Regions from separate parts of the Homo sapiens genome. Here region 1 is linked to region 2. Evidence: fine-mapped expression QTL. A gene starts in region 2. The other region holds a variant in brackets. All regions are shown on one strand. Distances are between the middles of the regions. Region 1 has its middle 220 kb from the start of LINC00993. Region 2 holds the start of ZNF37A (zinc finger protein 37A).

What was found. PIP is the estimated chance that this variant, and not a neighbour inherited with it, causes the effect.
Region 1: its variant is the best candidate, but not a certain one, in a credible set for the expression of ZNF37A in lymphoblastoid cells (TwinsUK, PIP 0.67).

What each region holds. Positions count from the first base shown.
Region 1 is chr10:37,523,505-37,534,803 of GRCh38, reverse strand. It overlaps the pseudogene TACC1P1. Among named protein-coding and RNA genes, the nearest start is that of LINC00993, 220 kb to the right of the region's middle. The variant A/C (reference allele first, on the strand shown) is at 6,192.
Region 2 is chr10:38,088,659-38,099,957 of GRCh38, reverse strand. ZNF37A (zinc finger protein 37A) reads right to left here and starts at 5,621. Exons shown (of 8, transcript NM_001324250.3): 1 at 5,468-5,621; 2 at 4,734-5,027; 3 at 4,329-4,420; 4 at 4,154-4,214; 5 at 3,326-3,384. The coding sequence starts at 3,340. It also overlaps the pseudogene FXYD6P2. RefSeq lists an enhancer at 5,478-5,667.

The DNA of each region.
Region 1 (11,299 bases), 570 kb after region 2:
CTACATGTTCCTCAAGTGAAGAAACTGTGTCTTATTTGTATTTTATCCTCATCACCTAACACTGACCAGAGTTTAACAAATTCACATGGGCTTCAAAACAAATACTGAAAGAAACCCGAGCCCCACCTGGCCCTCCACATTCAGGAACTTACAAGCATGGTGGACACGTCTTCTTCCACCTTTTGGCACGTCTCCTTCTCTATGCCTAAGACAGAAAGTCATTTTTATAGTTATCCCAATAAGTTGGTTGCTTTTCCCCCTAGTGAAAGGCTCTTGGAAACCCCAGTGCAGGCCAAGAATGACAGTGAACACATAAACAGCATTCCAAAATTTTATTTAAAAGGAGCGCTGGCATTCTGCTGAGCGCTGTGCAGTTCAGCATTACAAGTCCATGACATTCAGAAGAAGAGCACAGGTTAGTCAGCCACAAACAGGTCATCAACCTTCAGGCAGAAAGAACAGCAAGCCTGCACCCTTGTGTCCATTACAATTTTGGCTAATGCACTGGACTAACCATGGCATTACGGCAGAAAGTGAACACACTGTAACACTGATTTTTTTTTTTATCATCAAGTCTGAATGAACTTAAATTCCAGCCCAGAAGAGTGGCCTTGATCTAATTAATGCAGCAGATAAGATAATAAGCTTTAAAATTTAAGCCAGCAAATCTAAACTCATTCTTCCTCCATACCCTTCAAATGGGCTTCCTCATCTCAGGTCTATCCTCTACTCTACTAGGGTGGAGGGTGACATTTAAAATAACCAGAAGATGCACTCATTGAAGTAAACATAAAAATACAGAAAAGCATACAAAACTTTAAAGCTACAATCCTCCACATGGCAATCACTAACTACTATTGTTGTCAGTTAATTATTTAAAACACAAATGTGACCCTCACTCCCTTGTTCAAAAACCTTCAACCTCCCCACTCCCTACCAAAGGCTCAAGCCCAGATTCCATGGTATGACCTTGTTTCCCACTTGCCATGTACTCAGAGAAAGAAACTGGGCATTTTACCAACATGGCGGCTTCCTCCCCATGGCTGTGTGAGGGTCTCATTTCCCAGAAAACATCTAGGTAAGTAGCCATCAGGACCCAACTCCAAGTGGACACTCCCCAGGACATGGTCTGGATTCACCTAACAGGGCCTGTAGCCACCCCCACACCAGTACAGCAGCCTCCACTTGCCTGTGATGTGGCTGATCAGTTACAGTGTAGCCGGTTCTTTAAATCTCTTCCCCCTTTTTAAATCTGGTTCCCAATAAGGAACCAACTTATTGGGATAACTATAAAAATGACTTTCTGTCTTAGGCATAGAGAAGGAGACGTGCCAAAGGATGGAAGAAGACGTGTCCGCCATGCTTTATAAGTTCCTGAACGTGGAGGGACAGGTTGGGCTCAGGTTTCTTTCAGTATGAAGATAGCATACAGTACTATCTTCAAAGTTAGCAAACAGTAGGGGGAAGAGATGTAAACAAGTGTCCCAGCTGTCTGTATAAATTTTCGTTGAAGGAATTTCCTCGGGTGAGGAAGAATATAATTCAATAAATGTTTACCATGTACTGTGTCAAAGGTGACTCGAAAATGACCGTCTCCTAGTCTCTAACCTCAGTAAGTTTATAATATTACTTTCCTGTAATTGACACACTGCACTAGGTGCTGTGGAACAGGAAGGGGAATAGGAAATGTCATGGGAGCATAAAGCATGCAGGAGAGACCTGAAGGGATGTGCAGATCTGTGTAGGAGGCAGCAAAGGAAAACACTTCAGATGGACGAAATGAAGGCAGGTGCAAGAATACTCAGGATTAACCCAGAGAAACCGGCAGAATGGTGAACACGGTCTTTGGGAAAGATGTCAGGGCAGAAGGCAGTGTTGGACAAAATCAGGAACAATGCTTGGCCCAATATTTTATAGAAGAGAGACTGGGATCTGAGATGGGAAGGAGACCAGGGGGAATAAATTGCTCCAAGTCCTGACTTTCCATCTGCTTCCCTGGCTTAATGGCAGATCATGACTTTTAAAATTCTGTGCATAAAATGCCACAAATAAAATTATGTTGTTTAAGAAGATCTAAGTTTTTAATAATGTTTAATGTAGTCAGGAACATGTTTCTAAACTTTTCATAAGTAAAGTTTAAAGCCATCCATCTAACTTGGTACCCAGGAGAGGGGCTTAGCTCTAGAATGATCTGAAAAGTCCATCAGTAAGAGGCTTCAGCCCTGCTTAGTCCAACTTCCTCATTAGCACTTTAAGAAAGATTTTACAGTGCACTGGTCAGTTTCAACCTAACACACTGTACCAGGAAAATTTACAGTAGCCTAGGGTCATTAAGATAATCTCTTCACACTTTGACATTGTGGCTAAACGATCATGGAACCAGACTGCTTAGAGTCAAATGTAGTTCTACCATTTACTACTGACAAGGTTCAGAACACACTTCACCAAAATCTGGTGCCTTCGCACCTGAGGACACAGCAGAAGCAGGAAGGTCTCTTGGCACCTCTCCTGCCCTCTCCCCTGAAGCAGGCCATAAAGGAATCCCTCAGACCTTCCCATGAAAATAGGTCATAAGACCTAATAACAGAGGGGTCCTCCCTACACCCAGAGAAAAACAAAGTCCTTATCCTGAAAGACACAGACACTAAGAGGAATTGAAATAAACAGGATTGACTAAGTTCCCCTAGTTTATTACCATTAGATCACACCCTTCTGTCCTCCAATTGTACTTCTGCACAACTCTCCATAAAAGTACAGTTTTCCCTGTTTGGGTCTTCATTTCTGGAGGCTCTAATGTCATGTAAAACTTATATTAAATATATTTGTATGCTTTTGTCTTGTTGATCTGTCTTCTGTTAGAGATGTCTCAGCCATGAACCTTGTGATGAGTGAGGAAAGATACCACTTTTCTTTCCTACACTTGCCAAGAGACTTTAGTCAAGTTACTTAACTTTTTGCCTTCTTTGTTTCTCTGAAAAAAGGAGAAAAGAGTAACACCTTGCTATGAATAAGTATATGCAAGGCACTTAGAACAATGCCTGCACATGATAAGGCACCATATGTATTAGTTATTATTTCTGTAAGTTAAACAATGAACATAAAAATCATAAAAAGTCAGACATATGACATATTTATTTTATTTATTTTTTGTTTTACTTTAAGTTCTGGGATACTTGTGCAGAATGTGCAGGTTTGTTACATAGGTATATATCTGCCATGGTGGTTTACTGCACCTATCAGCTTGTCATCTAGTTTTTAAGCCCAGCACGCATTAGGTATTTGTGTTTATGCTCCCCCTCCCATTTTCCCCCACCCCCCTGACAGACCCTGGTGTGTGATTCTCCCCTTCCTGTGTCTATGTGTTCTCATTGTTCAACTCTAACTTAAGAGTAAGAACATGTGGTGTTTGGTCCTCTGTTCCTCTGTTACTTTGCTGAGAATGATGGCTTCCAGCTTCATCCATGTCCCTGCAAAGGACATGAACCCATTTTTTTTATGGCTGCATAATGTATGACATATTTATAGGCCATCTGATATAGTTTGAATATTTATCCCCTCTGAATCTCATGTTGACACTTAATCCCAATGGTGGAGGTGAGTGAGGCCTAATGGGAGGTGTTTGGGTCATAGGGGCGTATCCCGCATGAATAGCTTGGTGCCTTCCTTGTGGTAATGAGTGACTTCTTGGTCTCTTAGTTTCTGCAAGATATGTCTCTTAAAAACAGCTTGGCATCTTCCTACCCCTCTCTCTTCCTCCTTCCCTCTCGCCATGTGACCACTTGCTCCCCTTTGCCTTCTGCCATTATTGGAAGCTTCCTGAGTCCCTCACCAGAAGCAGACACTGGTGCCATGCTTCTTCTACAGCCTGAAGAAAAATGAACCAAATAAACCTCTTTTTCTTATAAATCATCCAGTCTCAGGTATTCCTTTACAGCAACGCAAATGAACTAACACACCACTACAAGATATGGCCATATTGACAGAAAATTATAAAGAAATTCAAGCAGTCTCACACACATCAGCGTCTCCTATACAACTTGCCACAAGTATCCCTATGTTCCTAGTACTTCAATAAGCACTTTTGTTAGTGTCCACTTTCTCGATAAAGAAGCAAAAGCATAGGTCAATAATCCTAAATCTATCCTTCCAGTGACCCAATTCTTTAAGCTCTGTAAGGTGCCTCCTGCTTCATTAGGCTTTCAGGCATTTCTATGCATATATACATTAGAAAGATGAAGATATGCTTCCATACCTGCTTCTGAGGATGAAAACGCATGATTTATGGTAGACATGGGAGCACTGGAACATTCAAAGTACTCCAGGTCTCCCTCTGGTCACCTTTCACCTTGCCCGCACCTGATTTCTGACCACATGACGTGGATGTCAGTTTCTCCTCATTGGTAGCGTGGACATCCCTATTAGAAATGTCTGAAATCTGGTAGATCACTGCCCCTTCATCCTGAGAAACACAACAAAGAAGATGTTACCCTTTAGGAGGGCAAGCAATGGGGAAAAGTGACATCTCATGAATGGAACCAAGTGGATACAACTCCATAAAGATATCTGAGGGAGTTAGCCACAGATCTGGGTACAAAGCAAGGAGGAAGCTGGAACTTTCAATTGTGACATGCTGTTTTATAGAACCTAGGTTCTGTAATTTGAGTCTGAGGTTTTAAAAAATGAGCTTCTCTAGGCTAAGTTTATCAGCAAGCAGTTTAAGTGGTCTAAGACAGTGGTTTTCAATTTTTTTTGATCAGATACCTCCTAATTTTTTTAAATCTATGTACCCCATTTCATTTTCAAATGACATCTAAACACTTTTCAGCATAAGTTTAAATAATTGCAAAGAATGTAATATCTGCCTTATTCTAAATATTGAATTTGCTTAATGCTATCTAGTTACCTTTGTGATATGATACCATATGATCCATTTTAAATTTACACAAACAAGTTCCTGAATAAGTCAGAAATTTACGTTATTCATTTTCCATTACGTTATTCATTCCACTTCCATCAAGAAATTATCCCAATGAAAAACATCTGCATGACTGAAAGTCTTTTAAAGGTCTCTATCCAATGCCTCTGTTACATTTTTTTCTTTGACTATAAGTCTTGAGGTGTTAAATTTTTTTTTCTGCTGATGAGTTATTGTTACATTTACTAATGCACAACTTATTTTCAAAATATTGCAAGTTTTGATAAGTATTAGACACAAAAGTAAATTTTTATATCATCTACAAAATGTTTTATTGCACTAATTCTTAAAAACTTTTACAGTACAAAAATATGTGGGTTTGGGTTTTTCTTTAAAGAAAACAAAAGATAAATTTCTCATAGTTCTTGTTGCCTACATTAGCAAAATTTGAGGGAGAATCTTTTACACATTTGTAACAGATGAAAAATAACTCAGATTGCAAATTTCCCCCCACTGCACCCCTTTTTTTACATCTTACACCATATACCAAATTTCTGGTCCAAATTGTACAGAATAAGTTATGTTAAAATTGAATTCTATTAGCCAATATGAATGTATTTCTAAAATCATAAGCATACTGACATAAAGTTTTAAAAAGAACAAAAGGATCTCGTTGCAATCAGATGGGCTTGGGTTTTGGTTTATGTGTGTTTTGCAATTAGTTCATATGGTCATGGATGCATACTGTTTATTGCTAGAATGTAACAGAGGTCAATGTCAATTTTATTCATGATTTCTATTTTTATAATTATAATTATTAAGAAACCTTATTTATATAAACGATAGATGAAACAGAAGGTAGTTCTGTAACAGAAGGACTTTCAATTCTTTGAACCCCTTTCCAAGTCATGTGCCCAAAAATTCTATCATCAAAGATTATTTTTAGATCTATCAGCTAACAACTCAGGTCTTCTTATTTTGTCGAAACCAATGAATTGGGAAACCATCTGACTTAAGAAAAATATCTTTCAGTTATTAGAGTCAATTATCTTCTTAGAACCTATACCAATATTTCAGATCTTCCCTTTGGTGCCCTGGAGACTTTCACACCCTGTGGTGATGCATCTTTGTAGCTTTTAGTGAGAGTTTTACAAAAAAAAAAAAATGGAGACAAAGAGAGAGAGAGAGTCATTGTGAAAGGGTTCCCTTTTCTTCAGGCGCCTTTTCTTCAGGGACAGTGAGGATCTGGAAATTGGTTTCTCAGGCACTCATTGGA[A/C]AGTCCTTATGATCCACTCCCGCTGGGGGACCCCTGGTCTAAGAGACATTCTGGGGATGAGCACAGACTCACCTGAGAACATGCACCCAGGCAAGAGACTGAGTTTCATGCTTCTTCACCTTAAAGCCACTCCTGGCAAGAGAAGAAACATAAAAAAGCTAATTTGGAACCACACTGACAACTGTCAAGGTATGAAATGGGACAGAGAGCAGTGTGTGCAGATAGAAGCCAAAGCGTACAGCACCACACACACCATACATCTACCTGTGAGAGAGGCAGGGACACCTTTTATGCCTCTGAGTTTTCTCTGGAGAGAAGAGGTAAGCAAAGACCTAGAGCGGGGCTCATTCTCTGAAAAGACCCCCTTGCTTGCTTCTGTGAGTTTTCAAACACTAGCACTCTGATGTCTATGGTTTTTAATTACACACCACCAAAAGCTTTTCAGACAGTAGAGCCTTAGCAGCTGGAGACATTCAGTTCCTCTGAGCCTCCCTTGCTTGGCTTTGACATTCATTAGAAAAATCATCACGCTGGACTGGTTTCTTTAAAAATTCTTTATTTCACCAAAAGCCACAGAAGTCTCATAAAACAGTTCCAGTTAGACTTGTGTGTTCACAGACAAGAACTGTGGTCAATAAAAAGTGTAAAAATAAAAATATGTGAGTAAACGGTTACCATTCCTATTAAGTAGTAAGATGGAAGATGAATGCCACATATTACACCAAGCCTGAAGCTGGGGAAAGCTTGAACCACCTGTTATTTGTAGACTAGCACAAAATTTGTGATTACAGGACTAATTGAGATTCTGTTCTGTTTTAATAAACTTAGAATTTTCAGTAAAAACACCGTGACCAAAAAAAGAAAAAAAATTTGCAACTTCTTTCTTTTGCAAGAAAAAATAAAAAGACAACCACATAAGTTACCAGAATGTGCATAATCATTACTTCATGATCTTCTTTCCCTAGTTTTCCTACTGAGTGCCACCCTCTGCCACCAAACTCAAGTTGAGCTGACTCAGTAAAATTAACTGTTCCAAGCCAGTAGCTTTATCTTACCAAAAGTCAATGATTTCCAATATTAAATAGCAGAACAGTCCCTCAAACCACTGCTTGAGGCCAAGCCAGCTCTTGGTATTGTCAAAGCACCACGTGACACTTGCCAGGCTAGGGAGTGCAAGTTCTCACACCTAAGGTGTAAAGGCCAAGCCCCACTCCCTGAGGTGCGGACACCTACAAAGCTTAGCTAACTCATGAAGTGGCCAGTGAAATACAAAAAATCATCAAAAGATCAAACTCAGAAGCAAACCATGCTATGGAGAGATGGCTCAGGGAGGATGGGAGAGAAAACTGCCAATGGTCCCAGGGACAAACAGAAACAGCAGGAGTACTTACAACAGAAAACAGAGAAATTTCACTTGTTTAATAATCCCGATGCACCAACAAAATTAAGAGACAGGAAAGACACAGAGGGAGAAAAAAATCATGTAAAGACTGGAATATTCAACTCCAGTCTTGCAGATGTAAAAGCTGCACAATTCTTTCTATGAGGTGAGATACTAATTTAAAATGTCATATTCATGAATGTTATCACTAGTGAGTGAATGATTAACAGACCTCAACCATAAGAGAGACTGGTAGAAACACTCAGAAATGCCGCAAATTCAAATTTGTAGATGAAAAGTAAACTTCCAAGAGGTCTAGCACTGCTTTCTTGTATAAAGAACAAGAAAACAAGATTTTTGGTTGCATAAGGACCTTTAAAAAAACCTATTAAGTGTATTAGATCAAGAAGTTCATTTGACAAAAACAGAATAGGGGAAAAAGGCTACCTACCAGGTGAGGGTGGTAGGACTCGAAAGATGGTATTTCTTGCTACTGATTATAAAGTGTAGAATGAATTACCCTCTCTTTGGCCCAGATTTCATCTTATTTGACATGAATGCACTGCTTGCATGCAACTGAAAGGCTCACAAACGACTCCTTATCGACTTCAGTAGGCTGAAACATCTCACATTTAGAGGAGGAAGTAACTAGGCAGTGATGTGCCCAGTACATACCCCAACTACTGTCTAGAGAGAACTAAATAACCTTAAAAGCCACAAAAGAGGGCACCAAGTCAATAATATTTTTCAACAACCATTTAACTGCTGATATATAATCAAAGAACAGATCCAGAGTTACTAATGACATTTCACTCCCCTTAGACGTTCTGGGGCTGCTGAAGAACTGACTCCTACATCGCTCTATTTTCTTGGTACTTTAGTCCATCCTTCTGCTCTTTAAACTTCTGGGTGTCTTCCTTTCTGCTGTAACTCACCATGGCATCTGGAGTTTTTCTTTAAGTCATAGCAACACTGAGAAGCATTTCCCCAACTGATCTATAGTGACAACTACAAACACAGTGCTTCTTGCACTCCTTTTCCATACTTCATGCTGCAACTCCTTGGTCCTTCTTTATATCTACATTTTACTGAAACGTTTTAGCAAAATGTCACAGGGCCGCAAAAGGAAGTACAGTCATGTGCCACGTAATAAACTTTCGGTCATGTGGTGGTCCCGTAGGGTTATAATGGAGCAGAAAAACTATTGCCTAGTGATGTCCTGACAATCCTGACCCTGTGTAAGCCTAGGCAATTTGTGTGTCTGTGCCTTAGTTTTTAACAAAAAAGTTTAAAAAGTAAACAAATAAGTAATTTTAAACAAAGAAAACTTATGAACTAGGGATATAAAGAAATAAAATATTGTGTATAGCTGTTCCATGTGTTTGTTTTTTAAGCTAATTACTATTACAAAAGAGTCAAAGCTTCTTTAAAAGTTCAAAAGTTGATAAAGTAAAAGAGTAAATTTAATTTACTATAGAAGGAAGAGTTTTTAAAAATAAATTTAGTGTACCTGAAGGATACAGTGTTTATACAAGCTACAGTAGTGTACAGGAATGTCCTAGGCCTTCACATTCACTCACCACTCACTCATTGACTCACTCAGAGCAACTTCCAGTCCTGCAAGTTCCATTCATGGTAAGCGCCCTCTACAGGTGTATTATTTTTTATCTTTTATACCATATTTTTACTGTACCTTTTCTATGCTTAGATATGTTTAGATACACAAATGCTTACGACTGTGTTACAATTGCCCACAGTAGTTTGTTTTCTTGTTTTTTTGTTTGTTTGTTTGTTTTGTTTTGTTTGTTTTTAGACAGGGTTTTGTTCTGCCAGCCAGGCTGCAGTACAATGGCAAAATCATGGGTCACTGCAGACTCAACCTCTTAGGCTCAAGCAATCCTCCTGCCTCAGCCTCCTGAGTAGCTGGGACTACAGGCATGCACCACCACTCCCAGCTATTTTTTTTAAAAAACTTAAGAGACAGGAGGTGTGTTTTGGCAGCGGGGGGCATCTCACTATGTTGACCAGGCTGGTCTCAAACTCCTGGCCTCAAGGGATCCTCCCACCTTAGCCTCCCAAAATGTTGGTATTATAAGTGTGAGGCATCACACCTAACACCTATAGTATTCAGTACAATAATGTGATGTACAGGTTTGTAGCCCAGGAGCAATAGGTTGTACCATTTAGCCTAGGTGTGTAATAGTCTACATCACCTAAGTTTGTGTAAGTTGACTTTATGATGTTCACACAAAAAAATCACCTAAGGATGCATTTCTCAGAACTACCCTGTGGCTAAGCGATGTATGACTGTATTATAATGTACTCAACTAAAGTTTTGTGATAAACTAATCCTGTAGCAAAGTTAAACTGAAACTTGATATAGAATGTGACCTTAAGTGATTACGCTGAAAACTCCAAGGACCTTGCAAAAGTCAGATGATTTCCCAGGAGAGATGAGAGATGGGGGGACTGATTAAACCAACTAATTTACTCAGTTTTATCTGATCATTTAAAATATTCTTGATTCTAATTGGAAATTTACCTCCTTGCTGATGAGTTAGAAACTACATATGGAAACAAGAATGCTCACCAAATTTTAGTGGTAGATTTGTTTCCAACAAAAGATCACAGTTTTCTGTTTATGTAAAAAGACTTTCTACAAGACCCTTTTGAGCCATTTTCTACACGTTATTGATACTACATAGGTAATTTATAGGACTGGAATTTCTGTTTTTTCCATAAAGAATCTGAAGACAGTGGCCAGCACTGACATTTGAATTCTGTCTATAATGTGACTCCTGACAGCCTCGCCAGGATTTCTGAAAACCGTCGAATCTCTACCTACCTATCTTATGCCACTCTTTATTTTTTTTAAACATAAAGACGTCTCCAGGCCCAGGGAAAGGAGCTTACCTCATTAAGCTGAGGATTCAGAAACAAGACAACAATCTGAAAAGGAAACGTCTGGTATTTCTTTTCTTTTTTTTTTTTTTAATACTCTAAGTTTTAGGGTGCAGCACACCAACATGGCACATGGTATTTCTGATTCTACACAAGTTAGGCCAAATAGGGAAGACTATAGGATAATGTTATAAGCTTTGTATCAACCTTGGTGGACCTCAAAGGTAAATTCAGTTCACCAAAGCCAAAAGTAGCCATCTGACAAACTCACAGAGAAGACACAGAGCGTGACACCCAGCACCCACTGTCACTCATTATTCAATGTGACTTTGCCTTCTTGGGTGATTCTAATATTTCTTTAACATGATTTCCAGTGGGAGAACAAAAGTCACTGCTTGTTAAGGTCACAGTTGGTTTAAAGGGATCCATGGATTTATCAAAGTTATTTGGGTCAAAGTGGTAGAAGCCCTCAGAAGACAGGGTTGGGGAGTTCTGCAGAATGGAGTGGCTCCCAAAGGGGTTGAAGCTGGGCTTATCCCACTGACTAGGATCTAGCTTGGAAGACACTTGGGAGAGAGGCCCATCTTATGCCACTGTGTCTGTAGGCTTTTCGACACCTGCTTACTTACTGATACCATCTTTTTGTATCTTGTGAGTCAGTTTGCTACCCGGTTTCTTGCCAAGTTTCCTTGGAAGGGCTTTCGTAGTGCTGGGAGTTTCTTTAAGGTCAGGAGGAGACTTCTGGAACCCGGCACTTCCTAACAAAGAAGGACTTGTGTTCTCATCCACCTCTTCAGGACTGAAGTGGTAGGATGCCTTGGGGAGA
Region 2 (11,299 bases):
ACTATCGGAGCAGGTTCCCCAATACATTTCACCATAAAAGATATATAAATGGTCAACAAGCTTATGAAAATATGCTCAACATCACTAATCATTAGGGAAATACAAATCAAAACCACGATGAAAAATTACCATACACCCATTACAATGGCTGCTATCAAAACAACAAAAGAAAATAACGAGTGTTGGCAAGGATATGGAGAAATCAGAATCCTGCACAACTGAGGATGGGACTGTAAAAATGGTGTACCTTCTGTAGAAAACAGGTTGGTGTTTCCTCAAGAAATTAAAAATAGAATTACCATAGATTCCAGCCATACCACTTTTGAGTATATAACCAAAAGAACTGAAAGAAGGATCTCAAAGAGATAGTTGTACACCCACGTTCACAGTAACATTATTCACAACAGTTAAAAGGAGGAAGGAACCCAAATGTCCACTGACAGATGAATTAATAAAACATGGGTACAATGAAATATCATTCAACATTAAAAAGGAGATAAATTCTGACACATGCTACAACACTGAGGAAGCTTGAGGACATTATGCTAGGTGAAATAAGACTGTTACAATAAGACAAATACTGTATGATTTCACTTAAATGAGATATAGCAAAAGTAGTGAAACTCATAGAACAGAAAGTAGGATGGTGGTTGCCAGGGGCAAGGAGGAAGGGAAAATGGGGAGTTACTGTTTAATAGGTACAGAATTTCAATTTTCCAAGATGAAAAAGTTCTGGAGATTATATGTACGATATGAATACACATACATAACACTGCTTCTGAATTGTACATCCCAAAATGGTTAAGATTGCTAAAACAAAAAACTAACAATAAATAAAGATTCCTGCTTTGGCCACATATATTCAACATTGTACTAAAAATTCCAGCCACAGCAATTAGGCTAAATAAATACACACACCCAAATTGGAAAGAAATAAAAATATTTTCGTTTGCAGATGACATGATCTTATATGCAAAAAATACTGAAGTATCCACAAAGGAACTACTACAAGTAGGAAACAAATTCAGCAAAATTACAGGATACAAGATCAACACTCAAAAATTAGTTGTGCACAGTCAAAAAGCAAATTAACAATTCCACTTATAATAGCATTTAAACAAAAAAATTTTAGGCTTATGGGCCATTACAGTCTCTACTGCAACCAGTCAATTCTGCCCTCGTAGTGTGAAAGTACCCACAGACTATACATAAATACATGAGTATGGCTGAGTCTCAATAAAACTTTATAGACACTGAAGTCTGAATTTCATATAATTTACAATAGCATTTAAATGAAAAACTAATAAATTTAAGCAAGGATATGCAACACTTGTACACTGAAAACTACAAAACATTAATGAAGGAAAGAAGACCTAGGGGAAAAAAATCTTACATTCATGGATTATAAGATTTAATATTAAGATGATAACACTCCCCAAAGTGTTATTACCCACTCCAATACTTACCCAATGCAATACTTATCAAAAACTCAACATACTTTTTTGCAGAAATAGAAAAGCTAACTAAAAATTCCTATGGATTGCAAAGCACCCTGCTGTGGAAAACTGTCAGTTTCACAATAAATTAAACGTAAACTTACCATATGACCCAGCAATTTCACTCGTAGGTATATACCCAGAACAACTGAGAGCATGTATTCTAACAAATATTTGTACATGAATGCTCATAGGAGCACTATTCACGATAGCGAAACACAGGATGACCCCCAATGTCCATCAACAGATGAATGGATAAACAAAAGTTGGTATATCCATATAATAGAATATTGTTCAGTCATAAAAAGGGACAAAGTACTGATATACAACTACAACATAAATGGGTCTTGAAAACATTATTCTAAGTGAGAGATCAGACACAAAAGGCTACAAATTGTATGATTCCATTTGTATGCCATATCTAAAACAGGCATATCTATAAAGACAGGAGATTATTGGTTGCTAGGGGCTGGAGCAGAGGGGAAAAAGGGAGCAACTGCTTATTAAGTTACAACACTGCTTATTAAGGGTACTATGTTTCCTTTTGGTGTGATGAAAATATTCCAGAAATAAATGGTGGTTATGGTGGTACAACATTGTGAACGTACTAAAGTCATTGAATTCTATACTTTAAAATGGCTTAATTGTGAATTTCATGTGATGTGTATTTTACCATAATTTTTTTTTTAGGTAGAATCTCTTGAAAGTTATTGCAAATATTCCAGTTCTGCCCAGTCTCTAGGGCTGTCACAAAGCCTGCCACATCCTAACAACCCATGATCACCCTAGCCTACCAGGACTGTTTCTTTAAACAACCATAAGTCCTAATGCTACACAATTCATGTGATTTTTTTTTTTTTTTTTTTTTTTTTTTTTTTGAGACAGAGTCTCACTCTGTCACCCAGGCTGGAGTGCAGTGGTGCAATCTCAATCTCGGCTCACTGCACCCTCCGCCTCCTGGGTTCAAGCGATTCTCCTGCCTCAGCCTCCTGACTAGCTGGGATTACAGGTGCACGCCAACATGCCAAGCTAATTTTTGTATTTTTAGTAGAGACGGGGTTTCACCATGTTGGTCAGGCTGGTCTCGGACTCCTGACCTCATGATCCACCCACCTCGCCCTCCCAAAGTGTTGGGATTATAGGCATGAGCCACCTAGCCCGGCCTATTTGAATTTTTTAATCACATACTTTCTCTTGATATCGCTTAAGTTTTCCCCTGGACTGCACATGAATTATTCACTTCGTTGTACTACTTTTTCATGTAACTGCAAGATTGTCATCAGAAGTTTCACAGTGTCACCTAATAAAGCCCATTGACAAACTGTTTTATGTTCCAGTTTCACAACTCTGTGAGATCACAAGATCTGCATTCACTTACATGACATTTTTGTTTTACTCTTCATCAACTCTTTATCAGAAATCAGCAAACATTTTCTGTAAAGGGTCTCACAGTAAATATTTTAGGCTTGTGGGCCATTACAGTCTCTGCTGCAACCAGTCAACTCTGCCCTCATAGTATGAAAGTACCAACAGACAACACATAAATACATGAGTATAGCTGAGTCCCAATAAAACTTTATATATAATGAAATCTGAATTTCATATAATTCTTGTTTTTTTTCCCTCAGCCACCTAAAAATATAAAAACCATCCTTCGTTTGTGGACCATAAAAAAACATGCGGCAGGCTGCATTTGACCCATGAAATGTAATGTGACCTCTCCTCTATATTTTCCCTGATGTTATTTCTACTTTCATATGAATGTATAGACATTTTTTAAACCTCAATAATTACTTTTAAGCAAAACGGTGAAAAAATAAACAACTTACCTGGGATGTGATCATCTTCCACTGGTGTTGGAAGAGCAGAGCAAACTGTGAGGGTGTAGCTGAGAAATAAGAAAAGATCATGAGTGATGTCACTTGCCTTAAAAGGTCCACTTCGCAGCCGGCAAAACATCTCTGAAAGGGAGATACTCACACGCCCATGCATGACTCTGGCATGATTATGTACTGCTTGGACTCATTAGTTTTCAAATGTAAAAACGTTTGTTTTCTACTGACTTAAAAACAATTTATGCTGTACTCTAACAGAGTATGCAAACCGATATATTAAACTAATTAAGCAAGTTAGGAAAAGCCAAAGAGTGGAACATAATACTTTCATTAAAACTGATGCTAAACAAAAATACTCAGGTTTTAATCTTTATTACAAACCAGAGAATCCCAACAAGGTTTTGAAAAAAGCGATGTGGTATTTTTCAGCCCAGTTTTTTTTGTTTGTTTGTTTGCTTTTTTGAGACAGAGTCCTGCCCTGTTTGTTGCCCAGGCTGGAGTGCGATGGCATGATCTCGACTCACCGCAACCTCCTGCCTCAGCCTCCCAAGTCGCTGGGACTACAGGTGCGCACCACCACACCCGGCTAATTTTTTGCATTTTTAGTAGAGACGGGGTTTCACCATGTTGGCCAGGCTGGTCTCGAACTCCTGACCTCTTGATCCACCCCCCTCAGCCTCCCAAAGTGCTGGGATTACTGGCGTGAACCACCGTGCCCAGCCCAGCCCAGTTTTTTTGGAAGGAAAACGAACTTGCTCTAACTTGATTTGAGGTTCTCAAAACAATCTTTGGATTTAAAAAAGCAAACTGATTTTTACTTACTCTGTTGTCAACGCAGCAAACACCCTCCTGAGTCCTCAAGCGACTCTGTCTGTTCTTGACTCTGCCACAACAAAATGTGTCAATGTCATCAGTAACTTAACACGTTAAGCTCGTTTCCTGTCCACCCCACCCCATCCCATCTTTTAAATAAAGCGTAAATAGATAACTTACAGACCTTTCTCGCGGCTGTACCTCTGATTCTGTAAGATCAAGATGGGGGCATCCGTACATCTCTAGTTGTGCTGCAGTGCGCCAGCAGCTCAGCATCTAGAACGAGCGAGTAACGAATCCAGGCATGGAGGGTGCTGTCCTCCACTTGGCTGCTAAGCTCTTCCCTCCGCATGATGCCTTCACAACTCCCCAAGAAGCGGTGCTGTCTGCTCCTTCGGCCTTGCCCTCTTCTGCCCCCACATCTGAATGGGCACAAAGCTCCCAGCCTGTGGGGGTCTGGAAAGGACACAAATCGAGCCTCTGCTCCTCCCACCCGTGCTCTAGATCTCTAGTGAGGTGTCAGCCCAACGGGTTGGGTGTCCTCCTAGGAGGGCCCCTGGGCCCTCGCCCCCCACCCTTCCCTTCTTACCCCACAACAGCTGCTTTGCTCCAAGACAGCTGGGCCTAAGCCCTTTGGTTCGAATCCTCATTCAAGACAGAAAGCTCCTACATCTTCCTGTCACTTGAGCCATGAGCTGGACCCTCTGAAAATGCCCACTGGTGCTAATGGGGACACAGGCGAGGCTGGACAGTGCCGGAGGGCCTGGGGTGCCTCCCTCCGCGTGCGCGGCCTCACAGGTCAGTGGAAACAAGAAATTCCCCAATCCACAGCCACGATGACTTCAAAATACTTCCCGAAGACATCAGGCAATGAAGCTGCGACCTGCGAGGACACAGCAAGCCGAGTGACGCTGGCCAGAGGCTGGGTGTGGAGTCCGCGCCTGCAGGGTCCCTCCCCGCCCCGCGGGCGCTTCCCCCCACCCCATTCGCCTCGGCATCGCAGTGACACCGCGGCGACGCCGACCACAGGTGGTTGTGAGGACAGCGAGATTCTGAGGGGAAAGAATGAGAGAAGCGCGCATCTATTGGGCAGAAGGCCCGTTTCTGCGCCGTCCTGCGGAGGCCTCCGGGCATCCTTCACCTCAGGGAAGAGAAAATCCAACCTCACTTGTCACAGGCGCGGGACTTGCGCATTCCCTTTGGGAGCACAAGAACCGAGGCAGGATTCGGACCCAGGCCAGGCGGCAAAGGCGTTCCCTCTCTCCCACCCCCAGGCCGCGCGGAACCCCCAGTCCACCCTCGCCCCTGCCCTCCCTTACTCACCCTCCGCGTCCTCTACCCGGACGCCAGGAGATGCCGGGAGCCCTCCCCGTCAGAGTGCCGGGGAGAAAAACAAACCTGGAGCCATATGGCAGACATGCCCAGAAGGCCCGAAGCGGCTCCCGCGACGGGGGCCGAAAAGTGCACACTACATCTCCCACAAGTCCTCGCGCCGCTCCCTTAGAAAGTGCACGCTTCATTTCCCACAAGCCCTCGCGCCGCTCCCTTAGAAAGTGCAGACTACATTTCCCACAAGCCCTCGCGCCACTCCTTTTGAAAGGGCATGAGGTTTCAGCCGCATTGGGCAGTTAGTTCCCAGATGCGGCAAGTGCAGTACTGCAGTTTTATTCGTTAGCTGAAATAAATTATGAGTATTTAAATTACACAGCTTTCTCATGAATTACATCCCCCTGATGATTTGGCCGTCCTCAACACTTCCTCATTTGGCAGAATTCACGAGTGGAATTTCTCCAGACGAGGTCGGTTCCTGTGGCCCCGCGACGCTGCCGCAGCACCACCTACACTTGCGCCAGTGTGGAGAGCTTCACTTGCTCCTTTCTGGTCCATTGGACGCTAACCGTGAGAAAACACGCTGGACATGAGCATTACCAGCCTGTAAGCTGTCGTAAAGATAACTCGGAATTGCTCTTCAAATTTTATTTGTTAAACCACGTAATACCATCTTGCATGGCAAACATGCATTTTCCATTCTTCAGGAGTATGCAGGATCTCTTGATCACGATAACTTTTTAAAGTTCACAGGCAGAGGTAATACAGGAGTGGAAAACCAAAAACCGTAGGTTCTCACTTATAAGTGGGAGCTAAGCTATGAGTACGCAGAGGCATACAGAGTGATATAATGGACTTTAGAGACTCAGAAGGGGCTGGTAGGAAGGAGGCCGGAGGTTAAAAAAACTACACATGGCCAGGCGCGGTGGCTCACGCCTGTAGTCTCAGCACTTTGGGAGGCGGAGGCGGGTGGATCACGAAGTCAGGAGTTCAAGACCAGCCTAGGTAACACGGTGAAACCCCGTCTCCACTAAAACTACAAAATTAGCTGGGCGTGGTGGCACACACCTGCAGTCCCAGCTATTTGGGAGGCTGAGGCAGGGGAATCCCTTGAACTCGAGAGGTGGAGGTTGTAGTGAGCTGAAATCGCGCCATTGCACTTCAGCTTGGGCAACAAGAGCAAAACTCCATCTCAAAAATGAAAAAAAAAAAACTATACATTAGGTACAGTGTACACTACTCAGGTGACAGGTGCACTAAAATCTCAGAATCCACCACTTTATAATTCATCCATAACCAAAAACCACTTGTACTCCAAAAGCTATTGAAGTTTAAGTTAAAATAAAAATAAAAAATAAATGTCCACTGACCAAAAAAGAAGCATTTTTCTCCATTTCTATTCCCTTCTTTACCACCACTGATGATAATCCCACTTGTTCCCATGCTGGAAAAGCATTTAGTACCATCCATGTAAAAGAATCAAATTATTCAAGGGTTGAGATGCATTTCAGAAGACAGTCATGGTAAGTACAACAATGATTATCACTTCGAGACACAATTTATTTTCCTGCTCATAATGTTTTTTTTTTTTTTTTTTTTTTTTGAGATGGAGTCTGGCTCTGTAACCCAGGCTGGAGTGCAGTGACATGATCTCGGCTCACCGCAACCTCCGCCTCCTGGGTTCAAGCGACTCTCCTGCCTCAGCGTCCCAAGTAGCTGGGACTACAGGCTTGTGCCACCACACCCGGCTAATTTTTGTAATTTTAGTAGAGATCGGGTTTCACTGTGTTGGCCAGGCTGGTCTCGAACTCCTGACCTCGTGATCCGCCCGCTTCGGCCTCCCAAAGTGCTGGGATTACAGGCATGAGCCACTGCACCCAGCCTAATGCTTTTGCATTTTAAGAAACAGTCTTGACACTTGTGAATATTCCATTATTTCTTTTTTTTTTTTTTTTTAGACTGGATCTCATTCTGTCACCTGGGCTGCAGTGCAGTGCCAAGACCTCGGGTCACTGCAACCTCCGCCTCCCAGATTCAAGTGATTCTCCTGCCTCAGCCTCCCCAGTAGCTGGGATTACAGGCACATGCCACCACGCCCAGCTAATTTTTCCTGTTTTTAGTAGAGACTAGGTTTCACCATATTGACCAGGCTGGTCTCAAACTCCTGACCTCAATTGATCCATCCGCCTCAGCCTGCCAAAGTGCTGAGATTACAGATGTGAGCCACCTCTCCTGCCCTCCATTATTTCTTTAATGCATTCAGGTTCCATTATGCCATGGATTATTTCAGTAACATTGTTTGCTCTTCTTTCAATTTGCATAATCCTATCCCTAAAGAGATTGAAAACTAGGGACATGCCACTCTTAGGCTCCTTGGGACTCGACACATCCTCCTGGGATCATCTCAGGAAGGGGACTGGCTGTGCAGGCACCATGGAGGTGGTGCTGATATTCCTATGCAGCCTGTTGGCCCTCATTGTCATGGCCAGTGCAGCTGAGTAGGAGAAGGAAATTGACCATTTTCATTATGACTAACAGACCCTGAGGATTCAGGGGTTGGTATGTGCTGTGGTCCTCTTCTCCGTTGGGATCTTCCTTATCCTAGGTTGCAGATGCAAGTGGAGTTTCAATCAGAAGCCCGGGACCCCAGGGGAGGAGGAAGCCCAGGTGGAGAACCTCATCACTGCAAATGCAGCAAAACTCCAGAAAGCAGAGAGCTGAATGAAGTGCAGCCCTCCAGTGGGAAGCCTCCGGAACCTGAAGGCAGCTGCTTGAACTTTTAGATGCAAATATTGATGCTTAAGAAAACAGCCACTTCAGCAACAAATCTTTCCAGAAGAGAAGCCAAGAACTTTTTTGTCCTGCCATGCCCTTCCCTGTCCCCTCTAACACCATTCCTCCACCTGATGATCCAACTAATCTCTTGCCTCACCACTGCAGCCTGCAGGCTCCTCCAACTCGTGTTATGTGTCTGTGTGTGTGTTTGCTGACTATAGTGTTCATGGCTACTTGTTCATGGTGATTATAGTTAGTGAACTGTGGACTCACTTTCCTGGGCAGGGGCTGAGCCATGTGGCCGTCTGCTCCTCTCTGCCCCCCATCACCTCTCACTCCTGGGAGTCTGCTTTTTTCCCTGGAGAGTCTAGCTCCTTCCCTTTAGAGCATGGGCAGGAGTCTCCAGCTGTCTTGGGACCTGGGAAGGTTTGCACCACTTTCCTCATCTTTCTTCATGGAGTCTCTTCACTTCTTTTACAAGAACCTCACTTCCTTATCCCACTCCAACCCGTCTGTTCTGAAGATCAGCAATTGGAGATACAAAGCAAAGCAAGGAGTTTGTGAGCCCGGCATTACCTTCAGGAGGCTACTATACCCTTCCATGGTTATTTTTCTCCCTGGGGAAGCCCCAGGGAGCCCCATCTGCCCTGCCTTTCACATAGCACCCAGGGATTCCAGGCCCAGGGCTGCTGCTTTTTTTCTTTTTCTTTATTCAGACAGAGTCCCACTGTGTCACCCAAGCCGGAATGCAGTGGCACGATCTCAGCTCATGGCAACATGGGTTCAAGGGATTCTCATGCCTGGGCCTCCCGAGTAGCTGGGACTATAGGCACGCACCACCATGCCCAGCTAATTTTTGTATTTTTAGTAGAGATGGGGTTTTCCCTGGCCTCAAGCAATCCACCTGCCTAGGCCTCCCAAAATTCTGGGATTACAGGTGTCAGCCACCGTGCCCAGCCTGGGCCCAGGACTAATAATCTACACTTGGGGAATGTAGCCCCTGCATATCTTATCAGCAATAACCACAGGGGCTCTGGTGCCCCACCCATCTCCAACCTTCCTGCTTCTGAGACTTCAATCTATAGCCCAGTTTTTCTGGACACAGGCTCCCATCCCTGAAGCTGAGTCTCCAGCAGGTGATGACTGAAGGATTCCCATTCTGTTGCGGCCAGCACACTGGAATGGACAGAGGGAGAGTAAGGGGCCTTTGCTTCTCTGCCCATGTCCCCTTGGTCAGCAGAGACAACTCCCGCATCCTCAGTGGTCACAGAGGTGAGTTAAGTAGGTTAGAGACCCAGTAGGCTCCATGCTGCACTGCTGCAGAGGGTACAGGAAGAGGTCAAAAGTCATAATGAGACTGGGAGCTCAAACCGGATCCCACCATTCCTGTCCTCCATGTGCCTGTGGAAATCAACCAAACCCAGCCTCTGTGGCTAGACTGCTGTTTTCTGTATCACGATCTGTCCTCTGAGCAACAGAAAAAAGGAATAAAATATTTGTTTCCTAGTGAAAAAAAAAAACTATGAATAAAAAACAAGTAAACTTCACTCAATGGAGTATTTTTAAAGTAAACAAAAATTTTGGAGTCTTTTCTTGAAAATTAAAATTATTATTTCAAGACTTTACGTAAACTAACAACTTTATCAACTGTGTTAGTTACAGGAGCCAATGAGTTTCTAACTGCAAAGGAAATGAAGAATATCGAATGCCAAAAAAAAAATCACACAATCCTTTAATCACTCAATTCTAATAGTGTAAATGCTGAAGTAAGAGAACAATTTTGTGATAATTACTTCAATGAAAATGCAAAGAACATCAGATGCTATTTTGACATCATGATGCAGAATGTGGGCAGGACGGTCCACAACTTGGAATCTTTACTTCAGCTTGGACCAAGCATGTCTGTGCCCTTATGCAAACATCAACCACAATTTGTATTTGTATCATTGCCACCAAAAGCAGTTCAGAAGCAAAGGGAAAATATCTTCTGCCTTGTGATTACTTGTATCCATGGCTCTGCTGAAAATAGGTGAGGCATTTAGATCATTGATCATCTCTGTGATCATAGTGAAGCTATTACTTTTGTTGTTGTAGTAGATTTCCTCTTGGCTCTTCAAAATTTGATTGCATCTTTGGAATCAGAAAATACTTCTAGCAGTAATACTTTCAGTAATACTTTCAAACTGTCATTTGAGCTGAAAGACTGCTGCTGTTATATAGTGTGGCAGATGTTTACAACTTCCATTGCCATTACTATATCTCAATCTGAATTCTCTTTTTTTTTTTTTTTTGAGACAGTCTCACTCTGTCACCCAGGCTGGAGTACAGTGGCACAATCTCAGCTCACTGCAACCTCCACCTCCCAGGTTCAAGCAATTCTCTTGCCTCAGCCTCCCGAGTAGCTGGAATTACAGGTGCTTGCCACCACACCCAGCTATTTTTTTGTATTTTTAGTAGAGACAAGGTTTCACCAAGGTTTGCCCAGGCTGTTCTCGAACTACTGAGCTCAGGCAATCCACCCACCTAGGCCTCCCAAAGTGCAAGGATTACACGTGTGAGCCACCACACCTGGCCTTGAATTCTTTTTAATAAAAAAAAACTGTTTACAATTTTATATATTAGTTGAGGAAATCATATATCTTCCATGTTTAGCTGTTATTATGTGCTGGTGTCTTTCTCCATTTTTGCATACTGCACAAAAAGTTTCAAAAGGAATCGTTCCTCATTTAATAAATCTCCACTTTTCAAACAATCCATCACAAAGTTTATGCTTGAATTTTGGTATTTGGCATTCAAATATACACAAATAAAAATAGATAATAGCAACCACCACAAAAATTAAGCTGAGTGAATTTGATAGTCTCGTAGCTGCCTTTGTGTGTCTGTCACTCACAAGTCTGAACTCAGAACTAACATCAAACGGGTTGAACCATTGAAAGCATTACAAACTTGCAAATTAATAATCAATTGAAGTGGCCGGGTGCGGTGGCTCACGCCTGTAATCTCAGCACTTTGGAAGGCCGAGGCTGGCAGATCACAAGGTCAGGAGAT